Regions from separate parts of the Homo sapiens genome. Here region 1 is linked to region 2. The links come from fine-mapping of genetic effects on gene expression. Tissue or cell type: whole blood. Region 2 holds a variant in brackets; the other region holds the start of a gene. All regions are shown on one strand. Distances are from middle to middle.

The links. PIP is the estimated chance that this variant, and not a neighbour inherited with it, causes the effect.
Region 1: ARID4A starts here. The variant in region 2 is fine-mapped to the expression of ARID4A in whole blood (INTERVAL, PIP 0.94).

What each region holds. Positions count from the first base shown.
Region 1 is chr14:58,295,649-58,300,877 of GRCh38, forward strand. ARID4A (AT-rich interaction domain 4A) reads left to right here and starts at 2,907. Exons shown (of 24, transcript NM_002892.4): 1 at 2,907-3,052; 2 at 4,150-4,212. The coding sequence starts at 4,207. PSMA3-AS1 (PSMA3 antisense RNA 1) reads right to left here and starts at 2,489. Exons shown (of 4, transcript NR_029435.1): 1 at 2,307-2,489. RefSeq lists enhancers at 2,137-2,860, 2,157-2,576, 2,597-2,646, 2,757-2,846 and a silencer at 3,477-3,996.
Region 2 is chr14:58,361,682-58,366,910 of GRCh38, forward strand. It overlaps ARID4A (AT-rich interaction domain 4A), which reads left to right. Exons shown (of 24, transcript NM_002892.4): 20 at 2,489-3,619; 21 at 3,837-3,941; 22 at 4,343-4,549; 23 at 5,202-5,229. Among named protein-coding and RNA genes, the nearest start is that of TOMM20L-DT, 31 kb to the right of the region's middle. The variant T/C (reference allele first, on the strand shown) is at 2,110.

The DNA of each region.
Region 1 (5,229 bases), 66 kb before region 2:
CTTGGCTCTATTAAAAATACAAAAAATTAGCTGGTGTGGTGGCACGCGCCTGTAGTCCCAGCTACTCGGGAGGCTGAGGCAGAAGAATTGCTTGAACCTGGGAGGCAGAGGTTGTAGTGAGCCGAGATGGTGCCACTGACTTCAGCCTGGCGACAGAGCGTGACTCTGTCTCAAAAATAAAATAAAATAAACATGAAATAAACAGAGAGTAATAAGTCATTACCAAAAGAACAAAGCGAGAAATGCCCATTAAAATGATGTATAACATAACCACATTTATTTAACAACGTAGTCCAACATCAAATGGCAAATTCCAATAATGCAAAAACCACGATTACTTTTGCAACGACCTTCTTAGACACAATATTTTGCAAAACATGTACAAGGATATTCACTGACATATTACTGCCATTATAGAAAAATAAACACGTTACATAAATTATGATATATTTATCCCACAAAACACTATGAAGACATAAAAGATGCTTTACGATAAGATATTTCCAATATTCCCAATGTTTTCTATAAAGAATAGACGGTAATGAACAACACTAGAATATTTGGTAAAACAAAACCAACAAAAAAGACAAAGCCTTTTGTATAATATATAACTATAGTGTAAACCGTAACTACCTTTTGGAGGAGGGAAGACATTTTTGTATTCTTCTTTGGGCTTTTTAATAATTTCCAAATGTCCATGCATTATTTGGATTCAATAATAACAGTTTAAACTTTGATCGTAGAATTATGGATGCTTACCCCCTAGAAAATTCAGTAATATATTGTTTTATAAGGTCTTTTAAAAAACTGCTTCACTCCTACGAGATTGCGCCACTGCACTCCAGCCTCGATGACAGAGAGAGACTCTGTCTCCAAAAAAAAAAAAAAAAAAAAAAAAAAAGCCTCACTCCTAAACACTCCCATTTACAAGATCTTTTCTATATAAGAACTTTTTAAATAGGCGGGTGGGGGGGAGGAAATCACAAAAATACGCATAATGTTTTATAACAAAAACATGAGGTATATCAAAGTCCAGAAATGAGAACCACGTAAATGGGTAAACAAGTCCATAAGGATGTCCTAATTTTGGGATTTCATTCTAAAATATTACACTAGAAAGCTAATTATACAGACTCATTTGAATCTGACCAAACAAAACATCTTTTAACTACCCTTCCTCCCATTCTGGTATTTCTTTACTAATCCATAGAAAGTTTTTCCAGGTAGTCCCCCGCAATTCTAAGGATTTTTAGACTTTATGACTCACCTCAGTAATCACTGAGATGTTCTGTTTTCTTCAGCACAACTGCCAAAAAACCCAGTAATTGTTAAGTCACACAATCATTTTCTAGTTATGGGCGCCACCAATATAGCAGTAGGGTTTAAAACAGAGGTATTGAGGGTAACTATTAGGATCTATCCAGTGTGACTAGGTCACTCACTAGAAATGCCAACATGCATTTCACGTTTTTATGAATACTTTTGAGCAAAATTACTGTTACGAATAAAAAACTGATTCTGCTCGGCTGTTTTCTTACTGAGAAAATTTAGTCCACGTGGATTACTGACGATATGTCACATTTTAAAAATTACTCCATTCTATAAAACTAGTCAATTTTATACTCCAATTCCGCTATTTAAAAATGTGTGTTTCGTTTAACAGAATATAAGATGTTAACAGAAAAAGATCAACGTCTATCTTATCGGGGACGTCCTTTTGTCTAAGATGTTTTCAGTCCCTGCAAAACCACTGTTTGCTTTCAAAAAGTAGCATAAGCCTCGTGCAGAGTGACAGACCCTTGTCTAAGGTCACAGAAGAAGCGTCTGCGCTGGCAAGTAAATTCCTCAGCATCCAGAAAGCCAGCGCTTTCTCCAGTTTCCTCATAGCTTTATCCCGTGAGGAGCACGCGGAAACCTCTACCCATGCAGGATGTTTCTAAGAACCACTTCTTCCCTGTCTTAACTAAGAAGGCTCCCACAGCTGGTGCCAATCAGGTGGAGAACATGGCAAGTCCCCGAAATGCACTTCCAAAGACAGGAAAGATTGCAGTGGGACAGAACCCAGAAAATCTCTCACATTCTCGAAAACCCGAAAGAGAACCTCCAAGAAAGACGTTTGCCTCTCCTCCACCTCTTTATCTCGGCGGGAGAGGAAGCCTCGCCCCCATTCATCCCGCCCCTTCTCCCCACCCCGCCGCAGGGAGAAGTTTACCATGGCTGCCTGCGGCCCCTTCACTTCCGGTGCCGGTGCCGCTAGGGCTGCGCCATCCCCCCAGTCAATCGGACAACCATAGCCTCCAACTGACCTTTCTGACAGCTCTGAGACTCCTCCGGCCACGACTAGGTGCTGTCCTGGAGGAAACGGTGGAGGACGGCCGCACAAAAACCAATCTACCTGATGAAAACTCCGTTCCCTTCTCGCCAGAAACATAAAATGCGATGGAGCTACGGCCACCGCTGCCGAGACAAAATGGCGCCGACAAGCTGGTTTAGCGCAAGCGCCTTGGACAGACCCTGCCCCGCCCCCGTGCAAGCCCCTGGCTGCAATTCTGGGTTCCGTTTCCATGGGACACTCCGCCGCCAATCCTCGTGTCGAACTGCTCTTCCTGACCCCTCAATTCACCAATCAGTGCCCAGTCAAGCACATCCGGAGTCGTCTCTACCAATCATTTCTCAGGACTTGCTTACTCAATAACCAACTCTCCAATAAAGTTGGTTTTCGGAAAAAGCCAATCATAAGTGGAAGATGTCCTACCTGCTGTTTTTCTCACCAATCCATGAAGTTTCACAGCTACATCCAATGAGGACGGCAGGTAGCGAGGTCCTATCCGAAGCTCTTCGGCGTCATGAGCAGCCAATAGGAGTTCGTGTAGAAGCGAGTCTGCTCAACAGCTTGTTATTTGGTGGATTGTGGCAGTAAATCGGGGCGAGTGGGGAACCCGGCGCAGGAACTGCAGCCGCGGCTGGGAGTGGTGCTGCCCGGACGGGGGCCCACGGAGGTCAGAGGGGAGGAGGACTCTGGAGCTGACAGCGCGCACTTCACCCGCAGTTGGTAGGTGGGGAGAGGGGAATCCGGGGATACTGAATGGACGAAGTGGCAGTAGCAGCAGCTGCTGCTGCCCGAGGTCCCGGTGCAGTTGGAAGCTTTGGAGGTGGGGAGAGGGATGCTAGGCAAGTGGCACGGCGAGCGCAAGGGAAGGGGCCAGCCATTGACCAGCGGCAGCAACTGCAGGAACCGCCGCCGCAGTTGCAGCCGCCTCCTCGTCCGCTTCCTCGGGTTCCCGGGAAAATGGCTGTGGGGCTGGCCGCGCCGCTAAGTTTGCTTCCGCGCGGTGAAGAGCGGGCTGCTTGGGGGAGCCGTCCCCCAACTCCGCGGCGCGTCCACCTCTGCGGAGTCCGTGGCAGGACTCGAGGGGCTACGAGCTGATACCTCTCTGGGCTGTACAAAAAGTTGAGGCGGGCGCTGGGAGGAGGCAGCGGCTGCTGCGGTGCGGCTCCCCTCCCCTCCCACACCCTGTCCGGGCCACCTCCCCTCCTCCTCCCCTCCGCCCCCCGCCCCCTCCCCCACGCGGGTCCCCCGGGGCTCTGGCGGCTCCCGGCTGAAGGCCGCGGCCCCTGCCCCTTTGGGTGAAGGAGCGCTTCTCCTTTCTGACATGGTGCAGAGCGAAGGAAGGAGAGCAATGGCGCCGTGACACTCCGCTGCCGCCACCGCGGGCCCGGGGCGGGCCGAGGGGGCCGAGCGGCGGAGGCGGGGCGCGGGCCGAAGTCGGGGTATCCGGGGGACCGCGGAGCGGAGGCTCGGCGGTCGTCTCCGCGGGGGACCTGGGGAAGCCCGAAGGGAGCTCTGGCCTTTTCCGGAGCTATCTGTCCTGGAGCTCCGAGTTGAGCATTCCGGGTCAAAGTGGCCAGCGAGGCGGGGGCGCGGTGGGCCGCTGGCGAGCTCCGGGGCGGAACGGGCTGCCCTTTGGCGCTCGTGGGGTTCTCGCTGCCCCCTCAGCTCCTGCGTCCTGGCTGCCCTCGTAAGGGGTCTTGTCCCTTGGCTGGTGAGGATTCTGCCCCTCCCCGCTGGCGTTTGTTTACTTTCTTTCCCTTGGTCGCTCCCCGCAGTTGACTGATTATGTCTGTGCCTGTCTTTCCCCCTCCCCATAGTTCTAGCGACTGCGAAGATAGCTCGCTGAGCTGGAACCCCACAGATCACCAACAAAAATGAAGGTAAGTGGAGTCAACTCTGCCCCGATCCTCGCGCCCTGAACACTGCCAATCCTAAGGCTAGTGCCGTGGAATGTCATTTGTTTTGCTACTCAAAATTGATGTTCCTACTGATCAGCAGTTTCGGCATAGGAGGATGTGTTGAATGGGTGAAAAATGATCTGTGTGTCTAAATGCGGAGTTTAGGCCCTCTCTGTAGCAGTACTTTGGAAAGGCTGGTGCAGCCTTTCAATTGTTGTCCATTCGGATAGTATTTTTAAACACTTCCTGTGTTGGCAGCAACCTTTGCAGAAGTAAAGCTTTTGTCCTGCTTTGGTTCTTTGGGGGATTTTTTGTAAATTTTTTTTCTTCCCGTGTGCCAATGCGATTTTCTAAAAGAAAGAATACGTGGATTAAGTAATGAAGGTATCATTTCTTCTGTGTGTAAAATGAACTTATGTGGCTAAAATATTTGAAGTTGAAGTATAATAATAGTTTTAGTTAAATCTTTCCAATAAGTATTTTAAAACATATACTAAAAAGATACATATTCTACTGAGGATGACTGCAAATATCAGTATGTGGATGGTTAAAGGGAAAGGATCTCATATAGCGTTCTTGAATGCTGTGGCCATTGAATGTTTCAGGTCAGATTTTTGTTTGCCAAAAGCATTCCTATTCAATTTGTATTTTTTGTAAATGCACTTACTTTAAAAGGTACCCAATTCCTGTCTTATTTACTGTTTCAGCATATTAAGCTCTGAAATATAGCATTTTCCCAAACTTTCTCGTGGTTTTCTATTTTCTCGAAGTAAATGACATATTTAACCTTCTTTAATATTACTTGGGAAAACTTATTAGAAAACAAAAAATCATTTTCTACTTCAAAACGTATCTCCAAAGTGTACACTGTTAACTTTGCACTTAACAATGTTAAGTTGAACTTGTATGGATACACTTTAACTTCCGGAAAAAAAAAAAAAAGGTAAAATGACAGATTGAGATAGCAATCATCCTGTTACTGTAAAAATTAAAATGAGT
Region 2 (5,229 bases):
CCACCTACGATGCTGTGTTTTCATTAAAAGGTTACCCGTACACTAGCTTGGGGTTGCTGAAGAAACTGTTGTGCACCTGTGTTTGGATGCAATGTGTCCCATGAGGTCAGGTCTGGAATTTTTTACTTGTGGTGTCATGTTGGTGCCCAAAAAGTTGTGGAATTTGCAGCATTTTGGATTTCAGGTTTTTGGACTAGGGGTGTTCAACCTGTAAATCACCTAGGATTTTAATCTCATATGATTTAAACTATAAAATTTGATTTGAAGAAAATATTTTGCTGTATCATTTTTATCTAAAATTTAGTGATGTTTTCATTTAGGAATACTTTTTCTCATAAGTATCTTGAAAATAATATATTTTAATAGAAGGTGAATTGACAATCCATGCATCCTAATGTGTGCTACACTTTCCCTCAAAGCCTGTACCAGTGTATCCTATAAATTCAATGCTGTTCATCTGGGATCTTTCAGCAAAGCTGAGACCATGTGGTTCTAAGAGAACACAGACTACTGTGGTGCAGGCATGTTTTATAATGAGTATAGGTGAACATATTTTATTCTGCTTGTACTCGTTTCCCCCACTTTTCTACCTCTGTATACTTTTAAATGTAATTAAGAAATTTTAGGCTGAGTGCAGTGGTTCATGCCTGTAATCCCAGCACCTTGGGAGGCTGAGGCAAAAGGATCACTTGAGCCCAGGAGTTCCAGACCAGCCAGGGCAACATAGTGAGACCCCATCTTTACAAAAAAATTTAAAAATTAGCCAGGCATGGTGGTGTGCACCTGTGGTCCCAGCTACTCAGGAGGCTGAGGTGGGAGGATTGCTTGAGTCTGGGAGGTCAAGGCTGCAGCAAGTGTAATCACATCACTGCACTCCAGCCTGGGTAGCAGAGCAAGACCCCACCTCACTCTGTTGCCCAGGCTGGAGTATAGTGGCGCAATCTCAGCTCCCTGCAACCTCCACCTCCTGGGTTCAAGCAGTTTTCCCACCTCAGTCTCCCAAGTAGCTGGGACCACAGGTGTGCACCACCATACCTGGCTAATTTTTGTATTTTTAGCAGCAATAGGGTTTTACTATGTTAGCCACGCTGGTCTCGCACTCTTGACCTCAAGTGATGTACCCGCCTCAGCGTCCTGAAGTGCTGGAATTACAGGTGTGAGCCACTGTGCCCGGCCACCAAAAAAGAAATTTTAAATGGTTGTCTTATATAAAAATTTCTCTTCTTTCAAGAAAAAAGCTATACTGAACTACATGTTTGCTATTAGTCCATATGGTGCTTGTGTGCAAATTATAAAAGGACATCCTTCCTCTTTACTGCCATCTGCTGACAAATGTTTAAGATGTCCACAAAGTGAAAGGTACCCTCTTAGAAGGCATACCTGTGTGCAGTGTCCAGTCTATACAACTACATACCAGCCTTATTAAACTACCACTGAAAGGGATTTTTTAAAACATGAAAATGAATTCTACATTCTGTTTATGATAAAACCACAAAATAAAACTGTATACACCTTTTCACTAAAAAATTCATGTTTGCAGTTTTGAACTTCTTGAGGATTTGAGCACCATGTGGACAATATTTTTATATTTTTTAGATCCTATACAGTCTTAGAACCCTACTTTACTATTTTACAAGTTCCCTTACAGGGAACAATTTTTGTTTCCTGTACTTTCTTGTCTGTTAAGAATATTTAAAGTTTTGAGGATTCCAATTGCCCATTTTAAAAACTTTTCTTGCTGGGCACGGTGGCTCATGCCTATAATCCCAGCACTTTGGGAGGCTGAGGTGGGCGGATCACTTGAGGTCAGGAGTTTGAGACCAGCCTGGCCAACATAGCAAAACCCCATCTCTACTAAAATACAAAAATTAGCCGGGCGTGGTGGCCTGCGCCTATCCCAGCTCCTCAGGAGGCTGAGGCAGGAGAAATGCTTGAATCCAGGAGGCGGAGCTTGCAGTGAGCTGAGATCACGCCACTGCACTCTAGCCTGGGCAACCAAGTGAGACTATGTCTCAAAAAAAAAAGAAAAGAAAAGAAAAAACCTTTTCTTTCCACAGTTATTTTAAGTAGAATGTCATATTCCTTTCTTAGGGTACAAAATGCCCATCA[T/C]CTGTCCTTCCTAGATACTATCTCAAACCACTTAACAAATTAACTTCATGTCTAGGATGTCTAGGTACTAATCTTTTGATCTTTTTTAAGGACTATTGTACCTAAATATGATACTGGGGAATGTTGCAAAATAGCTTTTCATATAGATTTGAGTTAGTAATATGCAACGTAATATATTTTTGCTTGGAGCTTAGTTTCCCCTCCCCCTCAAATTCTTGGCACAAATGTTATGATTTGTTTTATTTCAGAAATTTCTACAGGGAGGTATTCAGAGGTACATGATTAAAGATTTTTATTGTTATTTTTGGTAAGATTTTTATTGTAAAATTACATTGGTAATATAAAAACCTGTATAATATAATAATATTTCCTCTTACAGACTCTTGTTCATCTGATAGTGAAACAGAAGATGCTTTAGAAAAGAATTTAATAAATGAAGAACTTTCTCTTAAAGATGAACTAGAAAAAAATGAAAATTTGAATGATGATAAGCTAGATGAAGAAAATCCAAAGATTTCTGCACATATATTAAAAGAAAATGATAGGACTCAAATGCAGCCTTTAGAAACCCTGAAGTTAGAAGTTGGAGAGAATGAACAAATAGTACAGATTTTTGGGAACAAAATGGAAAAAACAGAAGAAGTTAAGAAAGAAGCCGAAAAATCTCCAAAAGGAAAGGGAAGACGAAGCAAGACAAAAGATCTTTCTTTAGAAATTATAAAGATTTCATCATTTGGCCAGAATGAAGCAGGAAGTGAACCTCATATAGAAGCTCATAGTCTTGAATTGTCTTCATTAGACAATAAAAACTTTTCTTCTGCTACAGAAGATGAAATTGACCAATGTGTGAAAGAAAAGAAGTTGAAACGGAAAATACTAGGACAATCATCGCCAGAGAAAAAAATAAGAATTGAGAATGGAATGGAAATGACAAATACTGTATCTCAAGAAAGGACCAGTGATTGTATTGGATCTGAGGGAATGAAAAACTTAAATTTTGAACAGCACTTTGAAAGAGAAAATGAAGGAATGCCATCATTGATAGCAGAGTCAAACCAATGCATCCAACAACTGACTAGTGAAAGATTTGATAGTCCAGCTGAAGAAACTGTAAATATTCCACTAAAAGAAGATGAGGATGCAATGCCTCTGATCGGGCCTGAAACCTTGGTTTGCCATGAAGTAGATTTGGATGATTTGGATGAAAAGGATAAGACCAGCATTGAGGATGTAGCAGTTGAAAGCTCTGAGTCTAACTCTCTTGTTTCTATTCCACCTGCCCTACCTCCTGTAGTCCAACATAACTTTTCAGTAGCTTCACCACTTACTCTTAGTCAAGATGAGTCTCGAAGCGTAAAAAGTGAGAGTGATATAACGATTGAAGTTGATAGTATTGCTGAAGAATCTCAAGAAGGTCTCTGTGAGAGGGAATCGGCAAATGGATTTGAAACTAATGTTGCCTCTGGTACCTGTAGTATAATTGTACAAGAGAGAGAGAGCAGAGAGAAGGGTAAGGACTTTCTAGGGAAAAGTAAGTGTTTATATGAAACCAAAAATCAAAACTGTTGAGTTTCAGGTACTGTTGATCTGTAAAGTACTTTCTTTTTCTTTTCTCTCTTCTTTTCTTATTAAAAAGAAAGAAATGTCAGTGTAGTCTGTTGAATAATATACTTGCTCTTTTTTTTTTTTTTTTTTTTTTCAACATTCTCTCTTTCCCCTTATTTCAGGTCAGAAGAGGCCAAGTGATGGAAATAGTGGATTAATGGCAAAAAAGCAAAAGCGTACCCCAAAGCGAACAAGTGCTGCAGCCAAAAATGAAAAGAATGGAACAGGTTGGTGTCTTTCAATGCTAGCTTTTGTATAGTGTTAGTATTTTTAGCAGTTTGTTGGCTTGTTTTAAACATAAATGGAGCAATACTATATTGTTTTATAACTGCATTTTCATTTAACAGTATTATACTAGATATTTTGCCATTTTTATTCTTAGGAACTCTAGCTCATTCTTTTTAACAACTTTAGGAAAGTATTCAATAGTTTATCATTTTTAACCATTTCCCCGTTGGTGAGCATTTAGGTTTTTTTGTTTTTTTGTTGTTTTTATATTGTTATAAACTTTGTGCATTTGTGCACTTATTTCTGTAGGATACCAAGAAATGTAATTGTTAGGTCTGTTGCATTTTGATATTTAAGAATTTTATTTATAATCTGAGTCAATCTTTTTTATTATTTATAGGACAAAGCAGTGATAGTGAAGATCTTCCTGTCCTAGACAATTCAAGTAAATGTACCCCAGTAAAGCATCTTAATGTATCTAAGCCACAGAAACTTGCACGATCTCCTGCAAGAATATCCCCGCACATCAAAGATGGAGAGAAAGATAAACACAGAGAAAAACATCCGAATTCATCCCCTAGGACATATAAATGGAGCTTTCAGCTCAGTAAGAAGCTTATAGAAAACTTGATAGATGAATACTGTAAAGTGGAATAGATCTTAAAATATCAACTTGGATTAATGTTAATAAAATAAGGAATAATGATTAACTATTTAGATATTCCAAATATTGCCTTAGCAAGAATCACCACATGTTGTCTTAAGTATAAATCTGTGTCTTTTCATAAAACTGACTTGATAAATATTGACTTACAGGAAGGTCTCCATTAAGAAGCCATGTATGATTTATATAAATCAGTGAAATTGAAGTGCCCTTTGTAGCACTAACAATTAGAAATAGCCAGTAGTTATTTCTATTATGTAACTAGTAGTAGTGAAGAAAATGTCAATACAGGGAAACTATTCTGATAACTATAATTATAGATAGGTCAGGGTTAGTTTGTGTTGATGTTTTCTTATGTTTTTCTGATCATTTAAGTAATAAATGTTTAGTATAGAAAATTTGGGATCTAAAAATAATTCTTAATCATGAATTTAATTCACGACTTCCTTGTTTTCAGTCTTATTCAGCTTACTGTAGGAGATTTTAATAAACTAAAGCTTTTGTTGATTTATGAGTTAGACGTTTGATAGAATTGTCATCATTTTTCTCACAGAATTATTTTAAAATCCAAATTAACTTCTTTCCCCCCTTTTAGATGAATTAGATAATATGAACAGTACAGA